Regions from separate parts of the Homo sapiens genome. Here region 1 is linked to region 2. A link means that fine-mapping ties the variant in region 2 to the expression of a gene that starts in the linked region. Tissue or cell type: Th1/17 cells. Region 2 holds a variant in brackets; the other region holds the start of a gene. All regions are shown on one strand. Distances are from middle to middle.

What was found. PIP is the estimated chance that this variant, and not a neighbour inherited with it, causes the effect.
Region 1: POLR1A starts here. The variant in region 2 is fine-mapped to the expression of POLR1A in Th1/17 cells (Schmiedel 2018, PIP 0.95).

The regions. Positions count from the first base shown.
Region 1 is chr2:86,101,059-86,109,058 of GRCh38, reverse strand. POLR1A (RNA polymerase I subunit A) reads left to right here and starts at 3,173. Exons shown (of 34, transcript NM_015425.6): 1 at 3,173-3,359. The coding sequence starts at 3,283. It overlaps PTCD3 (pentatricopeptide repeat domain 3), which reads right to left and starts at 2,824. Exons shown (of 24, transcript NM_017952.6): 1 at 2,708-2,824; 2 at 657-709; 3 at 523-559. The coding sequence starts at 2,811. LOC124907852 (a long non-coding RNA gene) reads right to left here. Exons shown (of 2, transcript XR_007087121.1): 2 at 7,738-7,854. RefSeq lists enhancers at 2,514-2,773, 3,154-3,363, 3,564-3,653.
Region 2 is chr2:86,222,724-86,230,987 of GRCh38, reverse strand. It overlaps REEP1 (receptor accessory protein 1), which reads left to right. Exons shown (of 9, transcript NM_001371279.1): 7 at 3,590-3,625. Among named protein-coding and RNA genes, the nearest start is that of MRPL35, 27 kb to the right of the region's middle. RefSeq lists an enhancer at 1-276. The variant G/A (reference allele first, on the strand shown) is at 3,197.

The DNA.
Region 1 (8,000 bases), 120 kb after region 2:
ATAGGACTACACTGTAACAAGCACTTTTGTGAAGTTTTAATTCCTGCATATTCAACAAATGTTGAATAAATGAGATGAGGCAATTTGTTCAAGGATATATCCAGTGAATAAAAAAGCTAAATTTTGCTGTCCACACCATTTACTTTATTTTTACCTCATTAGAGATAATAAAGACAGTAACTGTCTGCTCTTGAATCATATGAGAGAACTTCCTTGAAAAAAATTATTCTAATGATGATGTTCATGTATAACCATGTATTATTAACCACGTAAATAGTAACCCACACTAATTCAAAATCTCTTTCAATTGTTCTTTTAAGTAAATCTCATTGCTCATTCACTCACTATTCTCCACCTTTCCATTTTTTGTCCTTTAAACTCCTAGCTTCTCCCCGCTCAGCTACTCTCTTCAAGAATGCTCTCCTATTGCTCTTCCTGTCACTGTCTCCTTACCTAACCCTTACACTTCTCTCATAGTAAGCACTCAACCATTTGCTGAATGAACACTGATAGAATACTTACCAAGTTTTCTTTTTTGGAATTACTACTTCTTCAATCCCTAATGTAAAAAAGAAAACATGAATCAGTTTCCTAGTACTACAATGGAATCCAACGTGTTGATATAAAAATAGAATTCAATATATTTTAAAATATACCTGTTACATCAGTTCCTTCAACCTTTGAGAGGGTTGCACTACCAGAATAAAATCTGCAAAAAAACAAAAGCCTTAAATCTAATAGTCATTAATGAAGTACCCAGCTCACCTCCACCTATGTGTACTTTGAGCCCAAATTCTCCAATTATCACGGATTAAACTGGATAACTCATGTCAATGAACGCTGAGAAGACAGTCTGTACACATGTTCAATATCATTAAGGAATGGATACAAGATATGGACAAGACTGTCAAAACTTTTTTTTTTTTTTTTTTAGAGACAGGGTCTTGCTCCATTGCCTAGCCTTTAGTGAAGTAGTGCAATTATAGCTCACTGAACCCTTGAACTCCTGGGCTCAAGTGACCCTCCTGCTTCAGCCTCCTGAGTAACTAGGACTACAGGCATATGCCACCATGCCCGGCTAGACAAAAGTTTTGGAAGCAAGCAATCTCATTACATAAATGGCAGAGAGGGAGGAAAGTTTTTAATAGCACTTGAACAATCTGGTTTGAAATGAAGAACTTTCAACTTCAGGAACCCAAAACACTATGATGTTTAAAAGAACAATTCAGTGAGCTCTTGCTTCTATACAGATACTGCCCTGATCAGAAAGGACTACCTCACTTAAAGCAATTACAACATAGGGAAGATGACCCATGGCTTCTCATTCCACTTCTTTCAACAATCAAGAATGTACCAAATACATAAGGCCTGATTTAGACTTGGAATTGCTGATATTTTCTATTTTCAGAGGTTCAATATGAAATCCTTTTTAAACCAAAATATAGAATCATTGGCCCATGACTGAGTTTTTAAGTGTTCTGTTTAAGTGTTCTGATCACACTAAAAACACAGTCAACACACCACAGATAATGTGACGGTTAGTATTATCTTGTGTTTCCCCTTACTAAATGGCATCAGTAACATTCAGAAAATTGTCAAGATGTGATTGCACAGACAGATACTTCCTCCAGTAGTATCTGGTTTCAGGTATCATTTAAAACAAGAATACCCCTCTACGTTAAGGACATTTCAGAAAGAGATCAACTCTTTCAAGTTTCTGAGATCAACTCTTTCAAGTCACACTATTTGTTTCTCATGACCTTAAAACAGAGATCACAGTTATTTTGAGAACGGATGCTGAGGAAGAGATTCTGCTTCAGGCAAAGAAAATGAGTAGAAAAATGCTAACGATGGCTACCAGGAAACGGAGGACTGGCATTGAATGGCAGCACAAAGGTTTCTGCAGTATCAGATGGAGTGGTTTCTCTTTCTTGAGGGGAACTAAGGGAGAGTACATATAAAAACATATTGTAAATTACATACCCCACTTATACCTCACAAACTTTTCGGATGGTTATTACCAACTCTAGTCTGCAGATGAGGAAATCTGTCTATTATCATCCAATTAAGTGAATGGCAAACACTAAACCTAAAATTAGGCTTTTAGCAAGTTTTCACTACAAATTACTGCCTCTCATATTCCCACAATGCCACTGTTTGTACTGAGTGAAAAAAAAATTACACAGATAGGTCATACATGTTCCAAGCTATAACTATCACAGATCAAAAGGGCATAGTCAGATCTTTTAGACTTTTCTGCTTTTACGAAAACCTGATAACTTCTTTAGCCAAAGTCCCCACGGTGGCGACCAGAGACTGCCTTTTATTTGGGAAGATCTTGTACGTTCTCCTCGCTCCTCCTGATTGGGTTAAAATGAGTAATGGCGGATAATTTTTAATTTGGGGTAGTGTTGCTAATAGCCACACTCACTGGAACGCAAGCTTCATGAGAGCAGGGTCCTAGCTTTGCGGATGGTGTTAACTACAGAATATTGCAAGCAACCAATAAGTATTTCTCTAATGAATAAATGCGTTGCGAATCCTATTTCAAAGGGCCACCTCCGCGTACCTGGTCTTAAGGGCACGCGACCGTTAAGGGCGCGCATGAGCAAACCATTTCATCGTGCCTACTTCCACAGCCAGCTGGGAAACATAGGACTAAGGTGACTCCGCGGTCTTCTTCGCGGATACCCTAAGCGTCTCTTACCTGCAGCTGCGTGCCTGTTCACACAAACCCGCCCGCCGACCCGTCAGCGGCTGGCCAAGCCTGCTGCGGAGGCCCAGCCAGCGAACAGCAGATACAACCGCCATCTTTGATTTCTCTGCAGAGCATGTTGGGAAAGCGTGCCTCGACCTTCAGGAAGGTGGGGCGCAGTGGGCGGGGAGCAGGGAACAGCTCCGCTATTGGCTGAAGCGGAAGAAGACGAAAGCAATCATAAAATGGGAGGTTGCAAGCTCATGGTTTGAAAGACTTCGTCACGGAAGCTAAAAGCTCTATACACCCGATTTGCCTCGGAGGAATTTTCCTAAATGATTATTTTGATGTCTTATATATCTTTGATTGTTTTCAAAACAAAAGAGCGAGCAGAGAGTCGTACAACTATTTGTTCCCCCCCCATGTAGAAGTGATCTCATCCACGTAAATGTCGTTCCTGCGACCGCTTCCGCGCGCAAGCGCACGTTGAATCGCGTGGTGACTCCGGGCTTGAGGTTGAATTAAGAATAGTCAGGTGGTGAGTGGAACGTCTCTTGGGGTGTCGGAATTCAAAACGGACCTGGAGGATGTTGATCTCCAAGAACATGCCCTGGCGGCGGCTGCAGGGCATTTCCTTCGGGATGTATTCGGCTGAAGAGCTCAAGTAAGGAGTTGGTCGGGTAGCGTGCCCAGCCTGGATCTTGAGGTCGGCGCCCTAAACTACGATTCCCAGAAGCGCTTTTGCCCAGTCTATCCTCTTGAGTCCAGGCTTGTCTGGCGCTTGTCCTGCTGGGAGCCGTAGTTCTGGGAACGTTCCTGGGCCGGCGTGGACTGCCTGGATAAGAGGCCGGTGGTGCTGGGGGAAAGAGTTTGCGCTGAGGTAGGGGAATATAAGGGTGGGGAGGGTCCTGGTCTGCAGCGTTATCATCTGCCAGTCTCCTCGTTAACTAACAAGCATTTGTGGAATTAACCATAGTGTACCTGACATGGTTAATTAGGCACGTAGTAAGTTTCCTCTTGTTTGTAAAATGATTGTCCTTCAAGTGTCAGTTCAGGCGTTAACTTCTCTTTGCTAGGACCCTGCTATATTCTCGGTCTGGTTGTTAAATCAAGGGAACTCTCTTTAGTCTTCATTTTGATCAAGGTAGCATTTGACATTCTCCAATGCACTCTCTTGAAACTTTCCTTTCTTCCAGAACCTTATTTGTCTTCAAGTTCTCCTATTTTTATGACAAATACTTCTACCTCCCTCTCTTCCTCTATCGATCTATAACCTCACAAACATTTATTGAGCATCCAGTTTTTTCCAGGCACCAAGCTAGGCGTTAATGACACATTGGTGAGCAAGGTCTGTACCTCATTTTACTCCTTAAATGTTGATGTTCTTCAAGATTCTATTCTAGTAATGTTTTCTTCATGGTAAATATTGTCCCTAGACAATCTCACCACTTTCATGATTTATAGTCTCAAATTTAAATCCCCAACGCAAATTTATTTCCCTGATTTTCAGACCCATTTGTTCAGCTGTCTGTACATCTTTAATTGAATTTCACACAGAGATCTTAAATGCATATCAAAAACTCAACATGGCCTAAATGCATATCAGAAACTCAACATGGCCGGGCACGGTGGCTCACGCCTGTAATCCCAGCACTTTGGGAGGCCGAGGCCGGCGGATCACGAGGTCGGGAGATCGAGACCATCCCTGGCCAACATGGTGAAACCCCGTCTCTACTAAAAATACAAAAATTAGCTGGGCGTGGTGGCGGGCACCTGTAGTCCCAGTTACTCGGGAGGCTGAGGCAGGAGAATCGCTTGAACCCAGGAGGCGGAGGTTGCAGTGAGCCGAGATTGTGCCACTGCACTCCAGCCTGGCGACAGAGCAATACTCTGTCTCAAAAAAAAAAAAAAAAAAACTCAACACGGCATCCCTCTTCAAAGGGAGGGGTTACTTACCCCTCCAAAATGGTGTACGTAGTGCAAAATAGTCACTAGAAACTGGAAAATTATTCTAGATCTCTCCTGACATATAACTTATTTATTGGGCTCTTACTTTGTGTCACCTACATGTCTATTTGTTCTTAGTCTCCTTTTTCTCCCAATTGCTACTGTGTTGCCTCTGGCCCTTATCTCATATTTGAATTGTCTTTTCCTTCCACCCTCCCCTTACACCTCTCAAGTGCATGCTCCACACTGCTGTCAAAATTATTCTTGCAAAGTGCAAATGTAGTCATGCTACTGTCACCCTTAAAACCCTCCAAATGTTCTCCATTTCCCTCAGATAAAGTATATTTTCTTAGCATAGCCTGCAAAGTCTCCCATGATCAGACCAATGCTGATTTTAGCTATAACATCATCCCTTCTTCAGCCCTATTAAACCACCTGCATATTCCAGAAACCGCCATCATATTTCAACATCTGGGCCTTTCTTTAAGCTATTCCCTCTGCATGCAGTGTCCTTTCAGCCAAAAGGAGGTACTTCCCTCTGTCCCCTACCCAACATACACACCTGAAAGCTCAGTTCACCTCCCTTGTTTTGTGAGGTCATTTTGCACATGATACAGTTGTCTGTCATGGTGCTTTAGTGACTTTTTGTGCTTATGTATATTTGTCTTCCTCCACTATCCTTGAGCTTCTTATATGTGTCACTCTTGTCTTTTATCCTCAAGTCTGAATAAATGGATGAATAAACTCCTGAGCCACAGCTCTGGTATCATTGGTAACAGTGTGCTAGCCCAGAAATTCCAATTATATCATCACTGCCATAAGTGGATACGATTTCATCCAAAAGCAGAAGTGTTTTAAGTTGCCTGAATTTTTAAAAAGATAATTGTGGAGTTTTCAAACAAGTTTAGAGTTGAGACATTTCAATAATACTGCCACCTTTTATTGTGCCAGGTTCTAATAGCTTCCCATCTCACTCAGAGTAAAAACCAAGTCTTTACAAATGGCCTGGAGGGGTCATTTCAGTCTCCTGTTACCTCTCTGATCTCACCTCTATTCTGGCTACCCTGACCTCCTTGCTGCATCCAGAGCACCACGGGCACACATCCACCTCAGGACCTTTGCACTCCCTGCTTCTTCCTCCTGTAAAACCCTCTGCCCAGGTGACTGTATGGCCTGCTCCCTCAACTCCTTCAGCCTTTGCCCAAGTTCCTCCTTAGTGGGCTTCTAGGACCACTTGCCTACTCTGCTCTTCCCTTTCCCTGCATTATTTTTCGTCATAGCCCTTTCTGCCGTCTAACAGACTATACATTTTGTGTCTGTTCCCGTTCCTCCAATAGAATGTAAGGCCTGTAAGCATAGCAGTTCTTGTCTGTTTCCTTAGCACTTAACACTGTCTGGCACACAGTGAGCACTCTGGGTATTTGTTGAGTGTATGAATAGATGGATAGAGGAGCTAGCTGCTCAGTGCTTGGCACTTTCAGTCCTTAACGACACCCATTCTCAGTTCTTAACAACACCATTTGTGGTGGCACCTCCAGTAAAAAATTCAGGCCCAGAGAACAAAATGTCTCTCTAGGAAGTGGCAAAGGTCATCTTCAAACCTAAGTCTATTGATCTCAAACTCTACTGACTGGTGGAATCCTTGCTAGTTGCCCCTACTCTTCATCCCACTCCTGTAATGGTGGGAGGGACTTTCTCCTCTACAAAGAGAGAGGAACTTTGTTTGACACTGTATTTTCTGTATGTTATCTTCTAATCATCCCAATAGAGCTGCTGTGATGCCCAGACTTCAGGTGAGAAAAAAATTAGGTAGTTATCAAAGGATACAGTCAGCAGAGTGAAAGGGCAACCCATGGAATGGGGGAAAATATTTGTAAATTATATATCTGATGAGAGATTGATATCTAGAACATAAAAAGAACTCCTACAACTCAACAACAACACAAAATTCAATTTTAAAATGGACAAAGGACTTAAACAGACATTTTTCCAAAGAAGACATACAGATGGCCAGTGAGTATGTGAAAAGATGTTGAACATCACCAATTTTAGGGAAATGCAAATAAAAAGCTCCTCAAATCCAGTAGGGTGCTACTATCAGAAAAACAGAAAGTAGTAAGTGTTGGCAAGGGTGTGGAGAAAGTGGAAGCTTTTTGTACACCATTAGTGTGAATGTAAAATGGTGCAACCACTATGGAAAACAGTAGGGTGGATTCTCAAAAAACTAAAGACAAAATTACCATGTGATCCAGCAATTCTACTTCTGGATGTGTATCCAAGGAATTGAAAGTAGGGTCTCAAAGAGATATTTGTATACCTATGTTCATAGCAGCATTATTCACAATAGTGAAAAAGTGGAAACTACCCAAGTGTCTATCAATGGATGGGTTGATACATAAAATGTGGTATATACATGCAATGGGATATTGTTCAGCCCTAAAAAAGGAAAAAAGTTCAACACATCCTATAACATGGATGAACCTTGAGGGCACGGTGCTAAGTGAAATAAGCCAGTCACAAAAGGACAAGTACGGTGTGATTCCACTTAATATAAGGTACCTAGAGTAGTCAGATTAATCAAAACAGAAAGTAAAATGATGGTAGCAGAGGAGATGAAGAATTACTGTATAATGGGTACAGGGTTTCAATTTTACAAGATGAAAAAGGGTTCTGCAGATGGAGAGTGGTGATGGTAGCACAATGCAAATGTACTTAATACCACTGAACTGTACTAATTGAAACAGTTATGATGAATTTATATATATTTTATTACAGTTTCAAAAATTAAGATTAAAGAACAAAAGGTAAGTAATTTGTTCAATGTTACCCAGTTCAGGGTTGCAGGTGGACTCTAGATTTGTGGGAAGAGACCACACGCACAACTTTTGAGTTAGATCAAGTTTCTCATGAAATTAGCTTACTGGCAGCAAGGTGACCATATAGACAAGAGCCACAGCAGCAGATCTGCCTCCCTGTCGCCTTGGCCCTTAGAGTGACACTGGCCATGCAACATAGAATCTTCTAGAGCTGAGCAGCTTAGTTCCTGATAGACTAACATTGTTTTACACTCAGAACATGTCACCACTCATGAAAACTTGACACTATTTTTGTGCTTTATTAAAGGGAGTGTTTACATCATTAGGGGACTCTCGTTTCAGCCTTCGGATTTCCTCTAGGCTGTCAGATTGGGATGGTTTCTTTGTCTTTATTTTCTAAATCAGAAAGGAGAAAATTGTAAAAGCAAAGTTAGCCTACTAAACATAGTTGTGTCCTATGGGAGCACCTTTCAAACCAAACATAAAATGTGATGAAACCTTTTTTAAGGTTTGACTAAATGTGTTTAATGTTGTCAAATTTA
Region 2 (8,264 bases):
AGGGATACAAAACAGAGTTAAGTCTCATCTCCACACTGCATCAGCTCATCATCTACCAAGCCTCAGATGAAAGCTGCCCCTTAGATGGAAAAGGGGCCTCAATTCAGTAAAACCCAGAGGGCAGAGAGCAAGAACCAGTGGGGTGAAGTTCGAAGGGGGTAGCCACTTGCTCGCCGCATGACCCGGGCGAGCTATTTACCATCTCTGCACCCTAGATTTCTTATCTACACAAGGAATGACACCCCTTTGTAGAGTTGTTGTGAGGCTTCAAATGAAACCAGCCATGTGAAAGTGCTTATGGCCATGCCTGGCGCCAGTGCATAGTAGCTGTTATCATTGTTCTTTTTGTAATTTGTCTCTCCTGAGAAGGCGCATTGTCATGCTGCAAGTGTCCAGGAGCAAAATGGGCCATCTTGGGAGGTAGTGAGGTCCCTGACATTGGAAGGACACAAGCCAAAGCTGGATGGTCAGGTTCGAGGGAGGGATTCCTGCTTTGGCTAGGAAGCGGGCTTAGGTGGCCCTGGCGTCCCTTTGCCTCTAAGAGTCTGTGTTGCCATTTTAGAGGTGAGCCCAGTGGAGGAAGCAGGCTCAGAGAGGTTGTGCACTGGGCTGAGGCCCCCAGGCCCAGAATCCAGGCCTCCTGCCTAGACCTCCCCTGGTGAATTATTCAGGGCAGCCTCAGAACTGGGAATGCAAGAAGCTGGCAGGGTCTGCAGGGAGATGGCAGTGTCTTCTGGGCCTGGAGTATCTTCCCAGCCCAGCATCAGGTAGAAAAGCATTTGGGATGATTTGCTTTGGCACTGGCTCTGCCACTCTCCATGAGCAGAGGTGATGACGTCCCCTGCCATGCCCCAGGGAGGCAGTGGGGAGTGTTCTGGCTGTCCCAGGCTGAGAGGACCAGCTGTGCTGCATTATGCCCCAGCCCTCCTCACTGCTGGCCCCCTTGGCCTCCGCACCTATGACCACAGGGGGCAAAGAGGAAAGGTGCAACCCAGCAGGGAGGCCAAGGACAGTGTAGTGCTCTTTCCAGCTGTTCTGGAGCCTAAAATAAAAGCCATCTCAAAAAGGAAGACAGGAGCTGGGTGTAGTGGTTCACGCCTGTAATCCCAGCACTTTGGGAGGCTGAGGAGGGTGGATCACCAGAGGTCGGGAGTTCAAGACCAGCCTGACCAACATGGAGAAACCCCGTCTCTACTAAAAACACAAAATTAGCCAGGCGTGGTGGTGCATGCCTGTAATCCCAGCTACTCATGGAGTAGCTGAGGCAGGAGAATCGCTTGAATCGGGGAGGCGGAGGTTGCAGTGAGATGAGATTGCACCATTGCACTCCAGTCTGGGCAACAAGAGTGAAACTCCATCTTTAAAAAAAAAAAAAAAAAAAAAAAAAAAGGAAGACAGGTGAAAGATGGCCTGGGGCGTGGATATGGGGCAGAATTTCCTGGGTCAGAGGCTCTTGGGCTATCATACCCTGAAGTAAGGTCAACATGCCTAGGAGGAAGTCTGGCAGAGGAAGCCAATTTATACCGGGCTGGTGTACTCTCCCCAGCTCAGCCCCCAGTGTGGGCCTCAGATGCCAGGCCAGATCAGGTAGCAGAAAGGGCCCCAGAAAAGGGGAAGAGGCTAGACTTCATCCTGGCTGGGTGATGCCGGGCCTGTGCAGACACAGCAAATGCAGCACAGCAAGGCATGCTCCTTCCTCCTGAGCCTCAATTCAGCCTCAGAACTTCTCTCAGAACAACCCAGGCAGTCGCTACCATAGATTTGGCCTTGGCACAGAGGACAGACCTGATTCCCTCAGGCTTTCTTCTTTGTAAAAAAGACCGAATAGTCCCTATTCAGCCTATGTCTTAGGGTTGTGAGGAGAGCAAACCAGAGAATTTGCAAACCCTGGACAGGTGGCAGGGGTTGAAGACAACCTGGAGAGAGGTGGGAGCTGCACCTCGTGGAATTCTCTGCAGCTGCTGGAAGCAACAGATTAAGGGTGCACACAGTGGAACTTGAAAGCATGATGCCAGGTGAAGAAAAGTGCAAAACAGAATGAGATTTTATCTAACAATTTATGTAAAAAATATATGCCTATCATGCAAAGTAACAATACGGAGTTTATATGAAGAACATGTTCAAACAAAAAGTTGCACATTAAAATATTAAAAGTGACACTCCTTGAGGAGGAAGGAGAATGTGAGTGGGGTGTGGGAATAAAAGTCATGTAAAGGCACATAAAAAGGGTTGCCAGGCGCGGTGACTCACGCCTGTAATCCCAGCACTTTGGGAGGCCAAGGCGGGTGGATCACCTGAGGTAGAGAGTTTGAGACCAGCCTGACCAACACAGAGAAACCCTGTCTCTACTAAAAATACAAAATTAGCTGGGCGTGAAGGCGGGTGCCTGTAATCCCAGCTACTCGGGAGGCTGAGGCTGGAGAATTGCTTGAACCCGGGAGGCAGAGGTTGCGGTGAGCTGAGATCATGCCATTGCACTCCAGCCTGGGCAACAAGAGTGAAACTCTGTCTCATTAAAAAAAAAAAAAAAAGTGAAGGGGATCCCATGAACCAGTGTGGACCATTTGCTGTGAGCCAAGAAGGGACATCCATGTGACCTCCTGCATCTTGAGAAAAGGGAGGAAGATGCACACAAACGAGGAAGGGAGGAAGGGGCACAAAGACTGTCCCTGCACGGTCACTCAGCGCTGCAAGCTCCTGGCAGGCAGACAAGGGTTCTGTGCTTCCCTCTGTAAATGCCTACCCAACATACTCACCACATGCCTGGCACACAGAGACCTCTGTATGTGCAGTGAGGACACAGGGTCTAGGCGTTGGAGAAGGGGAAGGAGAGTTCTTTCCTGTTGCTTTCAGCACCCAGGATGGGGCTGGGCAGTGTACTTGGCCTGACCCTCTCTCTTGCCTGGAGTTTTCCTCTTTGCTTAAAGGGTCAGGGCAGGCAGGGACTGACATGGCCCTCCCTGCAGAATGAGCTGGAAGGTGTGTAGTCAGATACCATATGCTGAATGCCTAGCACTGGACACCAGGAAGTGTACAAGAAATGTTGAAAGAATGATCCTGGCCTTCCATGGACTTGGAGTCACTCAGTGAGCATGTATTTAGTGAGCACCTACTCTATTGCCAAGGCCCAGATGTGCACCAAGACCAATGGCGTGTACAAGGCAGCAGCCAGTTAGGCCTTTGCAAATGCCCAGAT[G/A]CGAAGCACTTTGGGGTTCAGAGGTAAGTCTGGGGAGGTTTCCTGGAGGACATTCTGAACTGGAAAGCAAAGAGAGGAGGAGGCTTTGGGCAGGGGTGCTTGGAGTTATTTTCCAGAGGGAACTTTGACTCTGTCTCCGGCCTTCCCTAGGGCTGCAGGGTGCAAGGACTGACTTTGTGTGCCAGGTGAGGGTATCTTCTGCACCTGAGCAGAAACTGAATCTGAGATGACTCTTTCCCCACTTTGGTGTCTCTACAGAGACCCACCTTCCTGGGATCCCTATATTGTACACACTGGGATCCCCACACCTCTCCAGGGCCTCCCTGTTTGCCCGGGGCTGGTTCCTGTCCAGTGGGGGATGTCACTGATGGTGCCCCTACCCCATTCCCACAGTGTGTACCTGCTGCTCCACCTGCAGGACCTGGAAAGGTGAGTAAGCAGCCAGCCTCTCCGCAGCGTGCTGGACTCTCACTCGGAAAGAGCTTCTAACCAGGAGTGGGCACCTGACCCTGGGGCTCCCTTTCAGCTGCATGGTCATAGGGAGGGGTCAGGAGGTTAACCCTTTATAACAGCAAACACAGTAGCTTACAGTTCCTGTGGGCTAGAAATCTGGGAGCAGCTTAACTGGGTGGTTCTAGCTCAGGGTCTCTCAAGAGGCTGCAGTCAAGATGTCAGCCTGGGCTGAGTTATCGGAGGGCTTGACGAAACTGGAGGGTCCACTTTCAAGATGGCACTCTTATGGCTGTTGGCTGGGCCTCTCCAAGGCTGCTTAAGAGTCCTTACAACGTGGCAGGTGGCCTGGCCTAGAGTGAGCCATTCAAGAGATAGAGGGCAGGCAGGAAGCCAGGGTACCTTTTCTGTCCTAGGTTTTGAAGTCACACTCATCACTTCTGCCTTATTCTATTTGTTGGAAGCAAGTCATTAAGCACAGCCCACATTCAAGGGGAGGAGAATTAATCTCCACCTCTTGAAGGGAGGAGTATCAAAGAATGTGTGGAGATATCTTAAAACCACCACAGGGTCACTGGGCGGGGTGGCTCATGCCTGTAATCCCAGAACTTTGGGAGGCAGAAGTGGGAGGATTTCTTGAGCCCAGGAGTTCGAGACCAACCTGGGCAATATAGCAAGAATTAATCTCTACAATTAAAAAAAAAAAAAAGCCAGGTGTGCTGGTGTGCACCTGTAGTCCCAACTACTTGAGAGGCTGAGGCAGGAGAATTGCTTGAGCCTGGGAAATCAAGGTTGCAGTGAGCCATGATCGTGCCATTGCACTCAAGCTGGGTGACAGAGCAAGACCCTGTCTCAAAAAAAAAAAAAAAAAAAGAAAAGAAAAAGCCACAACAGGGTCATACTTCCTTGTGCTCCAGGTAAGGACACAGGAACTTCAGAGGACTAAGGTCCTCTGAAATGATGAAGTCCTGAAGTTCCAGGGGTTTCTGGTCCTGGGGCAGCCAAGGGAGCCCTGTTCCTGCTTTGCCACTTACTTGCTGTGCAACTTTGCGTGAATCACCTAACCGCTGTGAGCTTCAGTTCCTCCTCTTAAAACGGAGATGAGATCCCTGCTTCCCGGCCTCACTGTGCTGTTGTGAAAGTGGCTGTGAAAGGGCCATAATAATCCTGGGAAGGATGATGAGGATGATGATGATGATGATGGTGGTGGTGGTGGTGGTGATGATGGTGGTGGTGGTGGTGGTGGTGGTGGTGGTGGTGGTGGTGATAGCCTGGAGCATCCAGGAGACCCCAGGGAGAGTGGAGGTCTCCCGGTTCTGGACAGAGACTCCTGTTGCTGCCCTCCCAGCGTGTGAGTGATGGCTTGTTGGAGCCACAGCCACCTGGTGGTTGCCATGACCTGCTTCTCCAGTTGCCTAACCTTAAGTAGACACATTAGGGACTAGTGAGGGTCCTGGACTAATCCAGTGCCCCTTTCACACTGCCTGGCTCCCCATAGAGAAGCTGCCTTAGGCTTGGAAGGCAAGAGGGGCCGTGCCTGGCCTGCAGCCTGCTGGCTGGTGTCAGGGGAGGAAGGAAGGCACGCAAGGTGCCTAATATAGCTTTTGCTCCAGCCCTGGTGCCGCGGAGGCATGACATGCCCCTCCCACATCGGCAGTGAGCAAGACAGGAAACTGCATTATGTGACGTGTCCTGTTTTCCCTGCATTGCTTTATTTTTAAGGCTCTCAGTGCTCAGCTTTTTAAGTCCTTTATAGAAGAGCTGGGGATTAGGACAGGCGCAGTGGCTCACACCTGTAATCCCAGCACTTTGGGAGACCGAGGCAGGCAGATCACTTGAGGTCGGGAGTTCGAGACCAGCCTGACGAACATGGAGAAACCCCATCTCTACTAAAAATATAAAATTAGCCGGGTGAGGTGGCACATGCCTGTAATCCCAGCTACTCGAGAGGCTGAGGCAGGACAATCGCTTGAATCCGGGAGGCAGAGGTTGCGGTGAGCCGATATCATGCCATTGCACTCCAGCCTGGGCAACAAGAGTGAAACTCCATCTAAAAAAACAAAAAAGCTGGGGATTCTGGAGGCCATAAGGCCAAACTGAACTGACAGAGGAGTCTGAGCAGGGCTGCAGATGGAGAGAAGCGTCCCAGCCCAGCTCTGACTAACCCTGTGTCCCTGTGGGGCCTCCTGGTCCAAGTTGGAAATGAAGGGGCTGCGTTCAGCTGTTTCCAGCACCGGGCACTAGACGCTGGCCTGGTGGACACACTAGTTCATGGGAAATGACCCTGTGGTGCCAGTGGCTCCAGGCAATTGCAGGGATTTCTGTCTATTCACACTGTAGTTTTGAGTCTGCAAATTCTGTGAGCCATTCCAAAAGCCTCTAATTCTGGGAGATTGGCACTTGGGGGTCGGGGAGAGTGGCTGCCCTGTCCTCCATTCTTCCCCTGACACTGCTCTGTGCTGCTCTCAGAAGCCCTTCCCTGCCATGACATCTGGTGGTTTCATGATCAGACACAGTGTTTCCAGTGCATTTCAATAGAGCTGTGGTTGATTGTAGGAACTGAATAGTTCTGGAAGGCTGCATGTGCATAAGAGTGTGTCCAGGATTCAGTGTCCAAGTTCTGGTTCCTTATCCCCGAGCAGGTTGGTTGCTGCTGGGATGGGGGTTGCTGGACAGCGGGAAGCAGGTGAGGCCTGGTGGTGGCCTCAAGACCTGGAAGCCGTTGTCCTAGCCCTTCCTTTCTTGGACCTCCGCCTCTCCAAGGGCCTCTTAATACCTGTGCCCTGGCTCTCAGGTCTGCATGCAAGGAACCCTTTGATGATTGGCCTACACCATTCCCTCTGAGGCCTTGGGAAAGCCCCTGCACTCTGCAGGCCTCAGTCTCCCCCTCCATGAGGTGTCCCTTGGTCCTCCCAGCTCTGACAGTCTCTACTGGATTGTGCAGTGGTGGCAGATGGTGTTGGGGGAGGTCTGTCTTGCACCTGGGGCTATAGGCTGACTCTTAAGCAGTAAGAGGATTTCACAGTTGTCGGGGACACTTTCCTCCTGGTCCCCTGAAATGTTGTCACAAGGGGTGCTCACTCAGGCCAAAGCCTGGGAAGATTCAAATTACCTCTGGGGCCATGCAGAGCCCCAGGATCCCTCAGCAGACAGGAACATTTTCTAGGAGTTGTAAATTCAGGTCTTAATTCATGATGGGGGTAGGGAAAGGAGGCATTTCGGAGGCTGCTAAGTGCCTTTTAGGGCAGTGACAGAGCTTAGAGGCCCCAGGGGCAGCAGCCTCTATTCTAAGCTGCACATCTCAGATGCCAGAACATTCTTTTCCCATCTTTGCTCTGTTCCTGCCCCATTTGTCAACTGATTCCCTATTGTTTTCTGCATGTCTTTGTCTCTCTTTTTCTGTGTGTCTATTATTATCTCTCTCTCTCTTTTTTTTTTTCTCTGCCTACCTCTATGTCATATAGAACTGAACTCTGGATTACTGCCTGTGTGGTTAGTCATAGAGGTGTCCCTCCCCCCCTTTTAAAATCAAGCATGTAGGACATAATTTTTAAAAGCAGTCATCCTTTTTGTCCTCTCAGAGAGAGAGAGAGAGAGAGAGAGAGAATTGCATTTTGAGTGTGGCCTCTGGGCAGTGTCCTTCTGATTATAGCAGGAGGAGCTGCCTGAGGTTTAGAGCATGGGAAGTGAGTGAGCATGTGTGTGTCTACATGTGTGTATGTGAGTGTGTCTGTGTGTGAGTGTGTGTGGATGGGGATGTGTGCATGGTGCACACGTGTGAGTTTTAGTGCCAAAGACCCTTCTCTAACGGAATGTTCTTTTCTCTCTCCTCGGTGCTGTTGGGGACGTGGATGTAAGTGTTCCAGACAGGCGTGCTCTTCTGCAGACATTTGCTGCCTTCCATTAATGCTCCCGCTAATGTGTGCTGTGTGGGATGTTTTTGCTAACCTGGGGGAGGTTCTGCTGCACTGCAGGGGTGCGGCAGCCCTGGGCCCACTGCAGGCTACACAGGCCTTTAAAGGGCTGAGAGGCTCTGCCAGTTTCTCCCTCCCTCCCTTCCCCACAGAGAGAAGAGGTGGAGCCTGCAGCCCTGGCTGCTGTAGCCCTGCTGACACATTTGCTAATACAGAAACATCAGCCAAGGCCACACACCCATTCCCCTGCTGTGGAAGACGGCAGAAACCCTGCCCTTTCCTAGAAGCAACCCAGCTTTGGGCATCATAGTGGCAGCTCTGCAGGCTCAAGGCCGTGGCCACCATCACCTGAGGTTTGCAAGTTGTTATGGCCATGACCTTGGGCGGGAGACCCTCCTCCCACACACATTGTCTCTGGGAGCCAATTAGAGTACTAAGATGTGGATAGCAATACTCTTTCAGGCCTGTTGCCAGGGGTAAGGACCTGTTGGGTCACCAATCTTTAGATCTTCAGGGACAAGAACATGGAGGAGGCAGAGCATGGGATTTTCTACCCAGCTACTCACTCTCCTGCTCCTCCTGGTGCCCCTCTTTTGGGACTATGTTCTGTGGGGTTCATTTCTCCATTTATACTCCTTCCTGATATAAAAAGGAGTTAGGTCTACTTGTGGAAATATATCTAAAGTAGCAAATCAAAGTAAGAA